2 separate regions of the Homo sapiens genome follow, and region 1 is linked to region 2. The links come from fine-mapping of genetic effects on plasma protein levels. Region 2 holds a variant in brackets. A gene starts in the other region. All regions are shown on their reverse strands.

Region 1 (7,561 bases), not on the chromosome of region 2:
CCATCCCGCGCGCGAAGGGGACAGCGCAGCCAGGGCGAAGGCGAGGGACTCCGTGCCTTCCTGCTTTTTCTCCTTTCTTCCAGCAAAGCCTGGGGCCGAGGCTACTCGCGGAGAATCGAAAAGAGGCAGGATGAGGTGGGAGGGCTGGAACCCGCGCGCCGAGGGCGTGGGGCTGGGGGTGACTTTTAGGCCCCTGGGAAGGCTGAGGGGCTGGAGATGGGGGTAGGCGGGACTCAAGGACCGCTCGGTGGGGGGGGCGGGGCCAGAGCTGGGGTGGGGGCCGAGACAGAAGATTGGGCCGTGGAAGGGGGAATGGAGGAGTGGGGCAGGGTTGGGGACCAAAGGGGCCACTGAAGAGGCACTGGGCTGAGAGGAGGGTGCAGGGAAGTGGGCAGGGTTATGGAAACGGGATTGGGGGTGCCGGGTCCCAGACTGGGGGTGGGAAGCCTGGAGCTGGCAGGGTTGGAGAGGGAGGTCCTGGGCCGGTAGGGGTTGAGTTAGGGGGCTTTGGGCCGCGGGATAGGGCGCGCGCGGTTCTCGGTGGGGCGGAGGCGGGACGGGCGGGGCGCGCGGTGCCCGCGGGCGGGCGGGCGGCGGGGAGGCCGGTGCGGGGCCCGCCGCCCCCCCGGGGCCGGGCCGGGCCGGGGGCGGGGCCGGGCGGGGCCAGCGGCGCATTAGCGCCTTGTCAATTCGGCTGCTCAGACTTGCTCCGGCCTCCGCGTCCGCGCCCAGCGACGTGCGGGCGGCCTGGCCCGCGCCCTCCCGCGCCCGGCCTGCGTCCCGCGCCCTGCGCCACCGCCGCCGAGCCGCAGCCCGCCGCGCGCCCCCGGCAGCGCCGGCCCCATGCCCGCCGGCCGCCGGGGCCCCGCCGCCCAATCCGCGCGGCGGCCGCCGCCGTTGCTGCCCCTGCTGCTGCTGCTCTGCGTCCTCGGGGCGCCGCGAGCCGGATCAGGAGCCCGTGAGTACCCGGCGCCCCACTCCTTCCCCCCTGCCAGAGCAGAGGGCGGGCGCCCCGGGGGCAGCCGCGGGGGGAGGGGGCGCGGGCGCCACCTGGACGGCCGGGGAACAAAGGAAGGCGCCCCCGGCGCAGCCCTCGGGGCGCCCTCACCTGCGGGGCACACGGCGCCGCAGTCCACTGTCCAGAGAGTCCTGCTTCCGCGCCCGAGGCCCTGTTACCTGGGCAGCTGGGCCGAGGGCGCCAGGCCAGGCCCCCGGGGGCTGGGGGGATCGCGGCCTGAGACCCTCTGCATGCCAGGACGTGGCGGGCGCACGCGTCTGCTTCGGTGGACTCTGGGCCCCTGGGACTGCAGGGCACCGCTCCCAGGCGGGGGCGCACGCGGTTGGCGCGCTGGGTGCGGGCCCCCAGCGGGCCCCCCCAGGCGGAGGGATGAGCCCCACGGGGAGGGCGGGGCTGCAGGGGGGCCGCTCTGGCCGCCTGGCGCGCAGCCCGGGGTCCCGGGGGACTTGTGTCTCCACGGGCCGGCGCCACCGCCCTCCCCCTGCGGGACCCGGCGCACGGGGGTCCGCGGAGTCCCCGCCACCGGCGGCGCTTAGAACCGTTTTCAGCCAGGCTGCGTCGGGCGGAGAGCCTCCAGCGAGAGGAATCTTTGTGAGCGAGTGGGTGAGAGGGAGAGGGAGCGGGAGCCAGTGAGTCCGGGCACCAGCGGGCCCAAACTTTGAGGGGGCCCACTGGGAACCCGCTGCCCTACGGGCCAAGACCCCTGCCCTGGAGGGACTTCTGGCCTCAGGCACTCTGGGGCCCCCCATCCAAGGAACACCCCCGCAAGGATACGTCTCCGTATGCAGACCCGCTCTGGGACACACCCAGAGACACACAAAGAATCACACTGGCTTGTGGCCCGTCACCCTCGCCCTCAAACTCGCGCACACTGCATCCCAGGTGCACATTCGCGCACCATCGCGGACGCACACACATTCCATCCCCGACACACACATTCACGGTCACACACATCCCACAGGGGAGGCGACCCAGGGGCACAGAGGCAGGCACCACTCGCCCCAGATGTTCAGTCACTCCACGCACCCCATCCAGGCGCACGGGCCACCCCGGGGGTCGCCGGGCACACACTGCTCCCAGGCTCATCCACCCTGTGCTGGGCTGTTTGCGGGCTGCCTGTAGGGCTCCTCCGGGAAGGGGCAGGGTCCGGGCATCTTCTAGGGGCACTTGCTGAAAGCCTGGCTCTCCCCTGGCTTTCAGGTGAGGGGCTACCTCGGGCCCTCCCAGGGCCCCTGACGGCTCTGCCAGGCGGTGGGCAGCGCCTGTGAGTGCCACTGTGAGCGCCAAGCTTTGTTTTCAGCCAGTAGAGCAGCAGGCGAAGGTGTAGGGGGTGGGGGGGCACTGTAAGTGTGTTTTTTCCTTTAAGGGGGGAAGAAATTAAATAAAAGATTCTCACACCTCGGCAATATGTTTCTACTTACGGTGTGTCTTAGCACCTGACCAGCAGGCGGGTGGGTCGTAAAGTGTCTGCAGGTACCAGCGGGACGGGAGATGGGGACCCCCGTGGGGACCCTGGGATGGAGGCCACCCTTCCGCCCTGCTTGCAGAGAATCTCACACTTTTCCCTTTTAAAACACATGGTGTTCCTTTTTAATAACGGCAGTGGCTCCAGATTGGGAAAAGAGGAGAGAAAAAACTTTTAAAGGCCCCAGCTCTGCGGGAAAGGAGGGGAGGCAGGGAGTGAAAAGGGAGCTGTTCAAAAGCCCAACCTAGGGATCTGCTTTGGGGAGCCCTAGGAGGCCCTCCAAACCAAGCCAAGCCCCCACCAACTCCGGCTCAGTGGGCTGTTCCCAGCTGCTCCCCTGCCTGGCCTGGAGTGCGTGCATCTCTGTCCCCAGCGCCTTAGCCCATTGTTTGTGGAGGCCTGGAGGGAGTGCCTAGTCAGCCGGGACCCCAGAGCTGGGAGGGGCTGTCATCTTTGCAGCTCCTGGGGGCTTCAGGCTTCTGAGCCCTCTGGACATTGGATTGCAATCACATCTCATTGATCTCCCCAGCAAGTAGAACGTATTTCTCCTCCCATTTTATGGAGGAGAAAATTGAGAACTGGAGAGGGGAAGTCAATTGGCCAGGTTCTCCCACTGGTGTTGCGCCCATATCCCGGGAGGAGAAAGTGTCCTTCTGACCTTACCGGCTGGGGCTAAGGGGGTGGGAGATTGGTCTGTCCAGGCCCGCCTGGCCTTGCCTTCCCCCTACAACCCGTCGCCGCCCGGTGTCCCCCGCCCAGCCCCGGGAGGGCAGCTGCAGCTGCTGGCAAGTGAGCCACGCCGGCCCAGGCCAGGCGGGTGTGGCAGAGGGGCAGCGCCCCCCAGCCAGGACCCCCCAGAGAGCCCCTTCCTGCCCAGGCCAAGCTGGCGGGTGGTGGGGGCAGGAGGAGTGAGACCCACTCTAGAAGGGCTGAGAGGGGCCTGGGGTCTGGGCAGGCCTGGCCGTGCCTCCCACTCTGTTGGGGGGGCCCAGGCAGGAAGCGGTGGGTGGGCCGGGGCAGAGACGCTGGCACACCCGAGTTCATGCAAAAGGAATTCCGAATTAGCGGGCGGCTGGCTGCCTGGGACCTCCAGGGCGGTCCCCTGGCCCCCAGCCCCCCGCCCCCCTCGGCCGCCCCCGCCTCCTCGGCTCTGGCCCGCTCAGCCGGCTCCTTCGCACGGACGCGGAGACCTCCGGCGAGCCCTGGGCCAAGCCCCAAGCGCAACTGCGATTCCAGGCTCCAGCGAGACAGAGCCCTCGAGCCAAGTTTGCCCCGGAAAATCATCAGGGCCGGCCCAAGAACCGTGTCCACCCCACCTCGCCCATCTGGGGCAGTGAGGGCAAGTGCAGGGCAGCGCTGGCATTCAGGGGGCCTCCCTGGGGGCCAGGATCACCCTGTCCTTGGCTGCCATCTCTGCGAAGCTGGGCTGCCCCTGCCTCCTGCAGTCCCTTCTTCCAGCCGCCTGGGGAGTCCTTTTAACGCATATCTCACCGCATCCCTCCCTCCCCGGCTGAGAACCCTGGAATCCCTCCTCCCTGCAGGTCAGGGTCTCTGACCTCTCAAACCTCATTTCCCACCGCTTCTGCCCCAGGACCTTGGCACTTGCAGCTCCCACTGCCTGGACATGCTCTGTTAGATAATGTCACAGCTACTTCTCTTACTTTATTCAGGTCTCTGCTCAAAGGTCACCTCCCCAGACAGGCCTCCCAAGCTTCTGCCGCTGCTCTGTCTTCCTCCAGCCCCTGCTTTACTTTCTCCCCTAGTTATTGTCTTAGATATTTATTTATTCCTTTTTCCTGCTGCTTCCTTGGATTTGATGCCCACAAGGGCAGGACTTTTGTGTGTCTTGGGCATCACCCCAGTGCCCACAGATCCGGACACACTATAGGTACCCTGTGAATGAATAGATGAACGCGTGAACGAACAAAGGCGTGGATGAGTCTTTACAACCACTCTGTGTGGAACGAGAAGCCCCTTTCCAGAGGCTCAAAGAAGTAAAACACTGAGGCCGGGTGCAGTGGCTCACGCCTGTCATCCCAGCACTTTGGGAGGCCAAGGCGGGTGGATCACTGGAGGTCAAGAGTTCGAGACCAGCCTGGCCAACATGGCGAAACTCCGTCTCTCCTAAAAATACAAAAATTAGCTGGGTGTGGAGGTTATGGTGAGCCGAGATTGTGCCACTGCACTCCAGCCTGGGTGACAGAGTGAGACTCTGTCTCAAAAAAAAAAAAAAGTAGAACACTGAGTCAGGCTGGGGGCATTCGAGTCCAGGTCAACTTGGTTTAAAGATCTCATGGGAAAATATTGTCTCCAACAATATTTTCACTCCTCTCAAACAACCTCATGAGGTTTGTTTTGTTGGTTTTTATAAATTTAAATCTAAATTTTTTATTTCTTTTTTGAGACAGGGTCTCACTGTCACCCAGGCTGGAGTGCAGTGGTGCAGTCATGGCTCACTGCAGCCTCAACTTCCCGGGCTCCAGCGATCCTCCTGCCTCAGCCTCCCAAGTAGCTAAGACCACAGGCATGGGGCCACCACCCCCTCCCCACCTGGCTAATTTTTGTATTTTTGGTAGAGACAGGGTTTCACCATGTTGCCCAGGCTGTCTCAAACTCTTGACCTCACGTGATCCTCCCACCTCAGCCTCTCAAAGTGCTGGGATTACAGGCATGAGCCACCGCACCCAGCCAACCCCATGACATTGACGCCATGATGTCCACTTTCCAGATGGGGAAACTGAGACTCAGAGAGGCATTGGGAGGTTGGCCTGTGCACCCCCTCCTCCTCTGGGCCTTGGTTTCCCTATGGACAAGGTTCTGGTCTCCAGAAGGGGAACTCCTGGGCTGCCCTGATGGCCAGCAGGAGAGAGAGGCATCAACCACCCATGGGCGTCCCCAAGTTTCCTGTGCCTAGTACCTGACTCACACACAACCTGGTTCAGGAAGTCCTTTCCCCTCTGACTTTCACAATACCCCAGGAGACAAAGAGCTTTCTCGTTCTCACTTTGCAGATGAGGAAAACTGAGTGGAGGGAAACAGCGATGATGTCAAGTCCCTTTGGATGGGAGTTGGGGACGTGCAGTTTGCCAGGGCTGCCTTTAGTTCCAGAGGTAGGCAGTGTGGAACAGAACTTTGGAGACCAGAAAATCTGGGCCTAACTAGTATGGCCTTCCCTCATTCCAGCAAGGAAACTCCATCTTTCAGAGCCGGAGTTTTTTCATCTTTAACATATAAGCAGGATTGGCCGAGAAAATGTAGGTAGTCTTAGCCCAGTATTCAGAACACAACAAGTGCTCAATAAATGGTGCTGTTAGGCCAGGCGCAATGACTCACGCCTGTCATCCCAGCACTTCGGGAGGCTGAGGCGAGTGGATCACTTGATGTCAGGAGTTCGAGACCAGCCTGGCCAACATGGCGATTCTTGGACTCTACTAAAAATACAGGCTGGGCGCGGTGGTTCACCCCTGTAATCCCAGCACTTTGGGAGGCTGAGGCAGGCGGATCACAAGGTCAGGAGTTCGAAACCAGCCTGACCAGCACGGTGAAACCACATCTCTACTAAAAATACAAAAATTAGCCGGGCACGGTGATGTGTGCCTGTAATCCCAGCTACTCGGGAGGCTGACGCAGGAGAATCACTTGAACCTGGGAGGCGGAGATTGCGGTGAGCCGAGATCGTGCCATTGCACTCCAGCCTGGGCAACAAGAGCAAAACTCCGTCTCAAAAAAAAAAAAAACATGGTGCTCTTAATGATTCAAGTAAGGGTCAGGGCTTTCATTTTAAGCAGTGCCCTTCCCCCACAGAAACACCTACTATGTGTGAGGCTCTGGGAGCATCACAGGAAGAACCCACAATCTTTTGTTTCTAGTTGCCAAAAAAGAAAAACAAAATGAGAATGAAAAATAAAGAAGGCTAGGCACCGAAGCTCATGCCTGTGATCCCAGGACTTTGGGAGGCCAAGGTGGGAGGATCGCTTGAGGCCAGGAGTTCAAGACCGGCCTGAGCAAACTAGCGAGACCTCATCTCTAAAAAAATATTTAAAAATCAGCCAGGTGTGGTGGTGCACACCTGTAGTCCCAGCTACTTGGGAGCTGAGATGAGGGAGGATCACTTGAACCCAGGAGATCGAGGCTGCAGTGAGCTATGATCGTGCCACTGCACTCCAGCCTGGCCAACAGAGTGAGACCCTGTCGCTAAAAAAATAAAAAGCAAAGCATGCCTGGGTGTATTGGCTCACTCCTGTAATCCCAGCACTTTGAGAGGCCGAGGGAGGTGGATCACGAGGTCAGGAGTTCAAGACCAGCCTGGCCAATATGGTGAAACCCCGTCTCTACTAAAAATACAAAACTTGGCCAGGCGCAGTGGCTCACGCCTGTAATCCCAGCACTTTGGGAGGCCCATACGGATGGATCATGAGGTCAGGAGATCGAGACCATCCTGGCTAACATGCTGAAACCCCGTCTCTACTAAAAATACAAAAAATTAGCCAGGCGTGGTGGCGGGCGCGTAGTCCTAGCTACTTGGGAGGCTGAGGCAGGAGAATGGCATGATCCCGGGAGGCGGAGCTTGCAGTGAGCCGAGATCGTGCCACTGCACTCCAGCCTGGGCGACAGAGCAAGACTGCGTCTCAAAAAAAAAAAAATACAAAAGTTAGTCAGGCATGGTGGTGCACACCTGAAGTCCCAGCTACTCGGGAGGCTGAGGCAGAAGAATTGCTTGGACCCGGGAGGCGGAGGTTGCAGTGAGCCGAGATCGTGCCACTGCACTCCAGCCTGGGCGACAGAGCGAGACTCCGTCTCAAAAAAAAAAAGCAAAGCATAGTGTTTGTCATAACGATGTGCTAAGCAAGAGTCACTTGGATCCGAATGAGCCTCTATGCCCGAGTTGTGTGACCCCTCAGAGAACCTTAAGCATGTCAGTGATGAAGAGTTTTGGAAGGATCCAGTGTTGGAGTCAGACAGACCTGGACAACTCCAGGTCTGTCAGTTTGGCCACCAGTGTTGCCCTGGGCATTTAACCCAACTGATCTCTACCTTCCCTATCTGTAAAATGGGGGACAATCATTAACAGCGTCTTT
Region 2 (8,000 bases):
CTTAATGGTGTCCAACCAAGTCTATAACTGCATTGCTTTCCTCTCACCTAGAGGTTAGGCACCATTGCAGTGGTTTGCAATGTCAAGTGTCACTGCTCACTAGTGAAATCCAAGGGCGTTTTTGTTGTTGCAAAATTGAGGCATTCCCCAATTGGGGGGAGTGTGTAGGGAGAAATGCCAGGTCCCACACATTTGTCCTGTTAAATGCAGTAGAGTCCTGTATAATGAATTATCTCAAGGCCCTCCAATGTCTTGCATGACATACGTGTAGATAAAAACCTTATCTATAATTACTCAAGACTAAACTAATTCCAAAACAAGGTTCTGTTTTTCACAATTTGAACATACGCTGAATTTTCCAGAAGTGTAACTCCTTGTAAATTATGGGGTGGTTTTTGTTTTGCTTTGTTCAGAATGTTTCCAAATATTATTTGTCTTCCTGGAAAATCACACCACCAGTGCAAATTGTAGAATCTGAGTCCCTAATTCCACACCCAGTGTCAAGTAACAGTCTGCATTTATAACTATTTCATTAGCAGTGATTCTGAGTTCAGGAGTAAGCATTCAACCACTTTATTTTAGAGCATGTATATATTGAGACACATTGTTTTTGTTATAATTATTTTCCTTTTGTATATTACAGTTACATCATATTGATATTTTGAAATTATGTGGGCAGGGACATTTTATTTATGGATTTCATCTTAGAATTAAGGATATTATAAACATTTGTTATAAAAGTAGGGCAATCGAGCTGATGGAGCCCAAAATCTGTTCATGCAAATAGTTTTACTGAGGGCTCTGTGTAGGATGCTGGTCTTGATATACAAGAAATTCTATTCCAGCTGACAGTCCATTTGTTCTCACTTCCTGCAAGAAGAGTAAGTCTAGAAGAGCAAAAGACTCTGGATCATTCTTAACAATTTGTGTCAAACTTATCCACTAATTCTTACTTCTGTAAGAAGCTGGGTTGCTCACCAGGATCTCCAGGCAACTATTTGCAGTGCATTGGGTTTCAGAGGTAGGCAGGTCTGGCTGCAACCCAGCTGTGGCAGGCAGAGTCTAAGATGGCCTCCTGGTATTCACACCTTTGGGTAATCCCTTTAGTCTGGGTGGACCTATGACTTGCTTCTAATGAACAAATGCAGCAAAGGTGATGGGATGTCACATCCACGATTTGGTTACATAAGGTTGTAGCTTCCATTGTGCTAGCTGACTCTTCTTATTGTCTTCTGCTTGCATACTTTGATGAAGCAAGCTGCTATGTTAGAAAGGCCCACGAGACTAGAAACTGCAGGTGGTCTCCAGCCAAGAGCCAACTGAGGCTCCCAGTCCAAACTTCAAGGAACTGAATTCTGCCAACAACAACATGACCTCAGAGGTGAATCTCTCCCCAGGTGGACCTGTGGGTAAGAACCTAGCCCTGACCAACACCTCCGATTGCAGCCTTGTAAGAGACTCTGAAGCAGAGGACCTAACTAAACTGTCCCAAGATTCCTGACCCCAGAGAGACTGTAGGATAGTAAATATGTGAGATTTTAAGCTGTTTAAGCTGTTAAATGTGTAGTAGTTTGTTATGCAGCAATGTATCAGCCAACAAAGTTAATAAGATGCAAAAATCAATGCATTAGAACACTTAGGGTGCTCTCACAGGACGGCCAGCATACACAGCCTGCAACACAGCATTTCCCAAACTTGTCCATAGAACCTGAGTTGCTTTTAGCATATTTAGAGAATACCAGAGTACATGTCTGCATTTAAGCAGAAAAAATTAATCTTTAGCTGAATTAAATTGTTGCAAAACTGTGACCAGAAGTTTGATTCTTATCACAGCTATATTTACTTTTTAAAAAGTAGAAACAGACTAGCAACTTATATTGGCTAGTTTTCGGAGTATAGATGAATAACAACTTACATTTGTTATTATTTCCATTACAAAGCAACTTTCTTACATATTTTAGTCTTGGGGACTACCTTTGGCATTTCATTTCCATTTTCTGCCCTAGTCAGAAGCAGCAAGGGGCCCTGTGCCAAAGTCTCTCTGTTCTGTATCCACCACACAACAATCCTCAGTTGTTGACAGACTGAGCTGCTCTAAGTTTCTCTTTCCATGAGGACCGGGAAGTTCAGAAAAGAGTTGGGTTAGAAGACCTCCACTTTCCTCATGGGAAACAATTTCCCCCGGCAAATACCTCACATCCTTCAGGGATTAGCTGTTTCCTCAATTGGTACAAGCACAGCCTTTCCCACAGCCTTGAATGCATTCTCTTCTAAAGAGCACAACACTATTTGTTTAATTCTGTCTATCTGTCCTGCCCAATCTTTTCATACAAGCAATAACCCAGTAACATCTCACCCAGAACAGGCCCTGTCCTTAACCCAGAACTTCTACACCTAACAGCCACTGGCACACCGACCTGTTTTCAGACTGTCTACAATATCTAGTCTGCAAAATCCAATGGGAACAGAGGGGTCCAGAAGCAAAAGAGCAACTTCTGCCCCCCAAAAATCAAGTTCCTAAGAAAAATGTGATGTGTTTTGACAGTTTCTGATAAAGTTAAACATACACTTACCATAGGACTCACCAATTCCATTCCTAGATTTTTTTTTTTTTTTTTGGAGACAGAGTCTCACTTTGTTGCCCAGGCTGGAGTGCAGTGGCAGATCTCGGCTCACTGCAGCCTCCGCCTCTGGGTTCAAAAGATTCTCCTGCCTCAGCTTCCCGAATAGTTGGGACTACAGGTGTGCACCACCACGCCCGGCTAATTTATTTATTTATTTATTTATTTATTTATTTTTCTGAGACGGAGTCTCGCTCTGTCTCCCAGGCTGGAGGGCAGTGGCGTGATCTCGGCTCACTGAAAGCTCCGCCTCCGAGGTTCACACCATTGTCCTGCCTCAGTCTCCCGAGTAGCTGGGACTACAGGCGCCCGCCACCACACCTGGCTAATTTTGTTTTTGTATTTTTAGTAGAGACGGGGTTTCACCATGTTAGCCAGGATGATCTCAATCTCCTGACCTCGTGATCTGCCCCCCTCAGCCTCCCAAAGTGCTAGGATTACAGGCGTGAGCCACTGCGCCTG[C/GC]CAATTTGTATTTTTAATGCAGACAGGGTTTCACCATGTTGGCCAGGCTGGTCTCAAACTCCTGACCTCAAGTGATCTGCCCACCTTGGCCTCCCAAAGTGCTAGGATTACAGGCATGAGCCACCACGCCCGGCCCACTCCTAGATATTTACCCAAGAAATATAAAAATATATGCCTGCAAAAAGGAACTGTATGCATAACAGCGTTATTCATAATAGTCCAAAACCCAAATGTCCATCAACAGATGAAGGGATACAAAGATTATGAAAACTCCATACAACGGAATACCACTTGGCAATAAAAAGGAGCCAAGTGATATACGCAACAACATGGATAATCTCAGCAACACTGTGCTGAGCAAAACAAGACTGACAAAGGAGAGTGCATACTGAATGATTCTGTTGATATGAAACTCTAGAAAAAGCCAAACTAATTTATAGTGATAAAAAGCAGGTCAGCTGCCTGAGGCCAGGGGTGGAGAATGGGGATTGCTGAGAAGAGTCATAGGTGATGGAAAAGTTCAGTATCTTGATTGTGGTGGTGGTCACATGAGTTATCCATTTGTCAGAACTCATTGAACTGGACCTTTAAAGTGGGTGCATTTATTGTATATAAATCCTACCTTGAAATTGTTTAAAAACTTATATAAAAAAGTATGGTAATAACTGTTAGAGATTTTCCAACTAAAAAATACGTACATTCAATGGGAGGGCTGAACTTTTTTTTAGATTATACAGCTCATTTCTCAGATAACAATCTCTGGGAAGGGCTCTCCTGGTGGCAGTGAGCTGAAGCACCATAGAAAGCATCCTCCTTTGCTTTCATCCTCTGCTTGCCACAGACCAAGAGCAGGAGCAGTGCCCTCCTGCTGTCACCAAGGGCAAGGAGATGAGGCTGCCAGAATAAAGCAACATGTTTCTCTGTCCTCTACTTTCCCTCTCTCCTTTGGCTTTCAGACACAGATGCTGCGGTAAACTCTGGTTCTTACTCCTGAGCTCTCTTCTAATCCGGGATCAGCTGCCTCTCTGGCAAACAGTTTTGCTTCCCAGAGCTCTGTCTTCAGGCATTTTTCCCAACTCCTCATGTTCACACAGTAGCTTCATGGGCTTTTGAAATCAGAGACAGTGAGCTGGAAGGGATTTTAGAGGTGATCCAGTTCTATCCCCTCATTTAGCACATAGAGACACCAATGCCCAGTCACTGAGCATCTCCCATTTCTGCTCCATCTAGGCCAGCACTGTCCAACTGAAATGCCTGCATTTGTGCTGCCATGTTGGACTATAGAGCACTTGAAATGTAGCTAGTGCCACCAAGGAACTGATTTTTAAGTTTTATTTACATTTGAAGTAATTTTAAATAGCTACATGTGGCTAGTGTCTATTGTATTGGACAGCCCAGATGTAGAGTACTGAAATCCAGAGTCCAGAAGTCAGGAGGACCAAATGGTCATCCTGTGTTCGCCTCTGCACATCACCCACTTTCACTGGGTGTTAGGATGCTTCTAAGCACTGAGCTCCTCATCTTATTCAAGTTTGCAAATATTTCCTTTTTCTGTTGTTTGATCCTGAGAGATCTACTTGAATTACATATGTATTAGGCCAAAGTTTCTCAAATATCAGTAGACCATTAAATCAGTGTATTGGCTTTAACCAGTATTTTATAAAAGATGAAATACATTAGACAAAAATATCAGTATATATCACACTTAAAATATTGTTTGGTGGAACCTGTGTTTTGGTTTGAGTATGTGGGAGTTGGGGGGCGGGTATAGTGTGGATGCCATAATGTAAAATGTACTTTTTATGGTAGGTCAAAATTAAAAACGTGTGAAACCTCTAAGATACACTACTAAATCTAGAGGCCCAAGTCAGTCCAAGCCAGGAGATAATGAATGAACAAGCTTTTCCAGCGCTATAAGACTCTTTGAATACATTACTTAAAACAAACAGAAAAACTGGTATGAAATGAGGTTGAACTGGCCAATGCAGAACCACTGTGGGAGGTGCTGTGCAGACCCATGCAGCTCACACAGTGAAAAACTTCAAAAACGTTCTGTAACATCTGATACTGTTTGTTCTTCTGATCCTATTGTCAAGGGTGGTATGCATTTCTCTGTTCTATATGAAAAGAATGTAAAACAATTTACTTTTGCTTGGGCATATTTTGTTCCAGAATTATTTCCTTTTATTTAAGTTCAAAAATTCTTTACCAAATCTATTAAAATTTCAAAGACTCTTCAGAACAGGATATGGCATGGTATGTACACCTGATAAATATTTATTATCGCTAGTATTTATTGTAACAGAGCCAGTTAACAGGGATGTGACCCTTCAGATCTTGGTACCCCCTACAAGGCTGAGCTGAGGAAGGGCTGGGGCTGGTGGACTTGCACTCTGATGATGGGGGTGTGAATCCATCCTCTCTTTAAGGCCTCCATCCAGTTTTAGATTCCAGCTGGAAAGGGTAAGGCTGAACCCCTGGAGTGGGGATCTTTTGGGGGAAATTAAGTTAAGAGCAGCATTCATGCATCATATCAAATAGCCCTCAGCTGTCCCTGAGAGGGTGGGACACACTAGAATATTGGCAAAGCACTCATATATTAACTCATTTAATCCTCACAACCATTCTAGGTTGTAGGTCTCACTAGTCTCATTTTACAGATAAGGACACTCAGGCACAGAGAGGACAAACGACTTGTGCACGTACAGCAAGTACGTCATAGAGCTGGGCTTCAAACCCAGGTGGTTGGCTTTAGTGTCTGCTCTTCATCACTACCCACCTCCCTAGGTTGATGCTTTTTTCTGTCTCTAAACTATTCAGGTGTCCTCCTGGGAGGTAAAAGAAATGGTCAAGAGTGAGAACCTTTTTTTAAAAAAAATTACAAGCTGCTATTATTTTCCTTTCATCACTAGTTAGGCTGAGACAATGCCATTAATTTGGATCCTTGTTAGATGTGCTGTCTTCATCTTGCCTATAGAAGAGACATGGGCATAGTTACAACAACCCGCCACAGTCAATAATGTAAAGAAATTGTTCACAACTCACTCCTCAACTTTGCCATCTGGTGGCTAATATTACTATTTATTTTAATTTAAAAAATATGGAACGCTTCACATTGGAACATCACGTTGTGTGTCATCCTTGCACGGAGGCCACGCTCGTCTCCTCTATTGTTCCAGTTTTAGTATATGTGCTGCCAAGGCAAGCACAGGGGGCTAATATTAAATCTCAGTCTCTGATAGTTTTTTTTTTTTTGCACCTATTCAAGTAATGTGTTCTTTGCAGCTTGAGAAGCATCATACATATTCACACCAGTCCTTGAGAAGGAGGTACGTCCAGCACACCTCCCTCTGTGAAGGGAAAGGCTCAGAGCATGGTTTGCTATTAAGAAAATTAGCACGAGCAGTGAAAAAAACCCTAGAAAACTGGGCAACAGACAAAATCCTAATTGTATTTACCATATACATGGCCACACCCTACTATGCTACTGCAAGATGGTGGCCCTCGGCCATTCTTCTGGCTGCCAGCACAGACCAGAGCCCTGGGCCTAGGCTCTGTCCCTACCTGCCTCCTTGGCAGTTACACCTTGGTTCTCCATTTGAAAACTACAAACTTTAGAGCCCAAAGGAATGTTAGAAACCATTTGCCTCAATCCCTTCAATTTATAGCGGAGGTCAACTGGAGATCATAAGCATGTAAGGCAGGGGAAAAAGAAACCGGAATGTCAGTGAGAATCTGTGGGGACTTCTGTCCCATTTCAGAATGGAAGGCTCTTCTGTGTTTAGTTTTGACTTCTCTCCCTTTCCAAATTTTCCATAGTGTGACTCTATTAATTAGTAGTCTAAAACATAGTCAGTTACTGTTCACTTCTCCTCCAGATGCCATGTGGTTCCCAATACACCTAGAGACTACATTAGCTTCAAGTCATCTTGAGTTCCCCTAAACATTCCTCTTCTTCCCATCTACCCTCATTTATTTCAGGTTACGGAAAGAGGGCCATCCCCATTAGCTCAGGTGAACTGGAAAACCCAATCACTCTATTTATAACAAGAGCACAGGTGTATTGGGCCAGCACTGTTCTAACAGCTTTAGAACCCAGAAGAGCTTTAGAGCTCTTAGACACAACCCAGCTAACCCTCAGAACAATCCTGCGAGGTGGGTACCATCATGATTCCCATAATAAAGATGAGGAAACCAAGGAATGGAAAAGTTATGGACATGTCCCACAACCAGTAAGCATTGTTAGGGACCAAGAAGTTCCACAATGACTAGTTTCCTGATAACCTGTTTCTGTCTCTTTGGTGCCCAACCATTTCATTTTGGATAAAAACCCACAAGTCAACCACTTAGGTCACACATGGTTCTGAAAGTCCTATACTGTTCTGGATTCCCAGGCACAGAACTCCGGGCTGCTCAGGAAGAGACTATGATTCTTCCACCTGCCAGCTACTATTGGCCATCCCTTCTCATTGCTTCTAGCTCCAGCCTTCTCATCCCAATTCTCTATTCTACATTGTTATTTCTAACCCATTGTGTGCTGGGAAATCAAACCACTCAGCAATGACATTCTGAATTTTAAAAAAACATATACACATGTAATGAATACCTACTAGCTTCATCTCTTTCTGACTTGTAGTTCCAGCTTTAAAAACCAAATTAGAAATCATGACAGAGAGACCCTGGGGGATTTGGGGGCACTTTACCATCAGGAAAGGGCATGGACTTTAGCACAAAGCCTCAGCAGCAGCTATGCTGACTCATCAGAGGCCTTTCCCACTCTTCCAGGTGTTTAAGTTCTGAGCAGCTACCTCGAGAGGGCCTGCTGGATAACTGAGGCGTTTACTGGCAGAGTCTCATTTCATTCACGTGCCCCTAGGAAGAAAGGAATGGGGCACTGCCTTTCCAAAGAAGATGCCC

Alleles and levels. Alleles are on the strand shown, and positions count from the first base shown. The strength of an association depends on the size of the effect and on how common the allele is.
For the plasma level of the protein whose gene starts at base 701 in region 1, GC is the low allele of the variant in region 2 and C is the other (weak association).

What was found. A credible set is the group of variants that fine-mapping cannot tell apart. PIP is the chance, under the fine-mapping model, that this variant and not a neighbour inherited with it causes the effect. The UK Biobank Pharma Proteomics Project read protein levels with antibody pairs (Olink). The fine-mapping took linkage between variants from a reference panel, not from the people measured, so its PIPs are less certain.
Region 1: CRLF1 starts here. The variant in region 2 is the best candidate, but not a certain one, in a credible set for the plasma level of the CRLF1 protein (UK Biobank, PIP 0.64).

The regions. Positions count from the first base shown.
Region 1 is chr19:18,599,939-18,607,499 of GRCh38, reverse strand. It overlaps CRLF1 (cytokine receptor like factor 1), which reads left to right and starts at 701. Exons shown (of 9, transcript NM_004750.5): 1 at 701-958. The coding sequence starts at 844. RefSeq lists an enhancer at 661-1,579.
Region 2 is chr2:64,993,038-65,001,037 of GRCh38, reverse strand. All of the region lies in intron 1 of SLC1A4 (solute carrier family 1 member 4), which reads right to left. It also overlaps the pseudogene RNU6-548P. Among named protein-coding and RNA genes, the nearest start is that of SLC1A4, 7.6 kb to the right of the region's middle. The variant C/GC (reference allele first, on the strand shown) is at 3,084.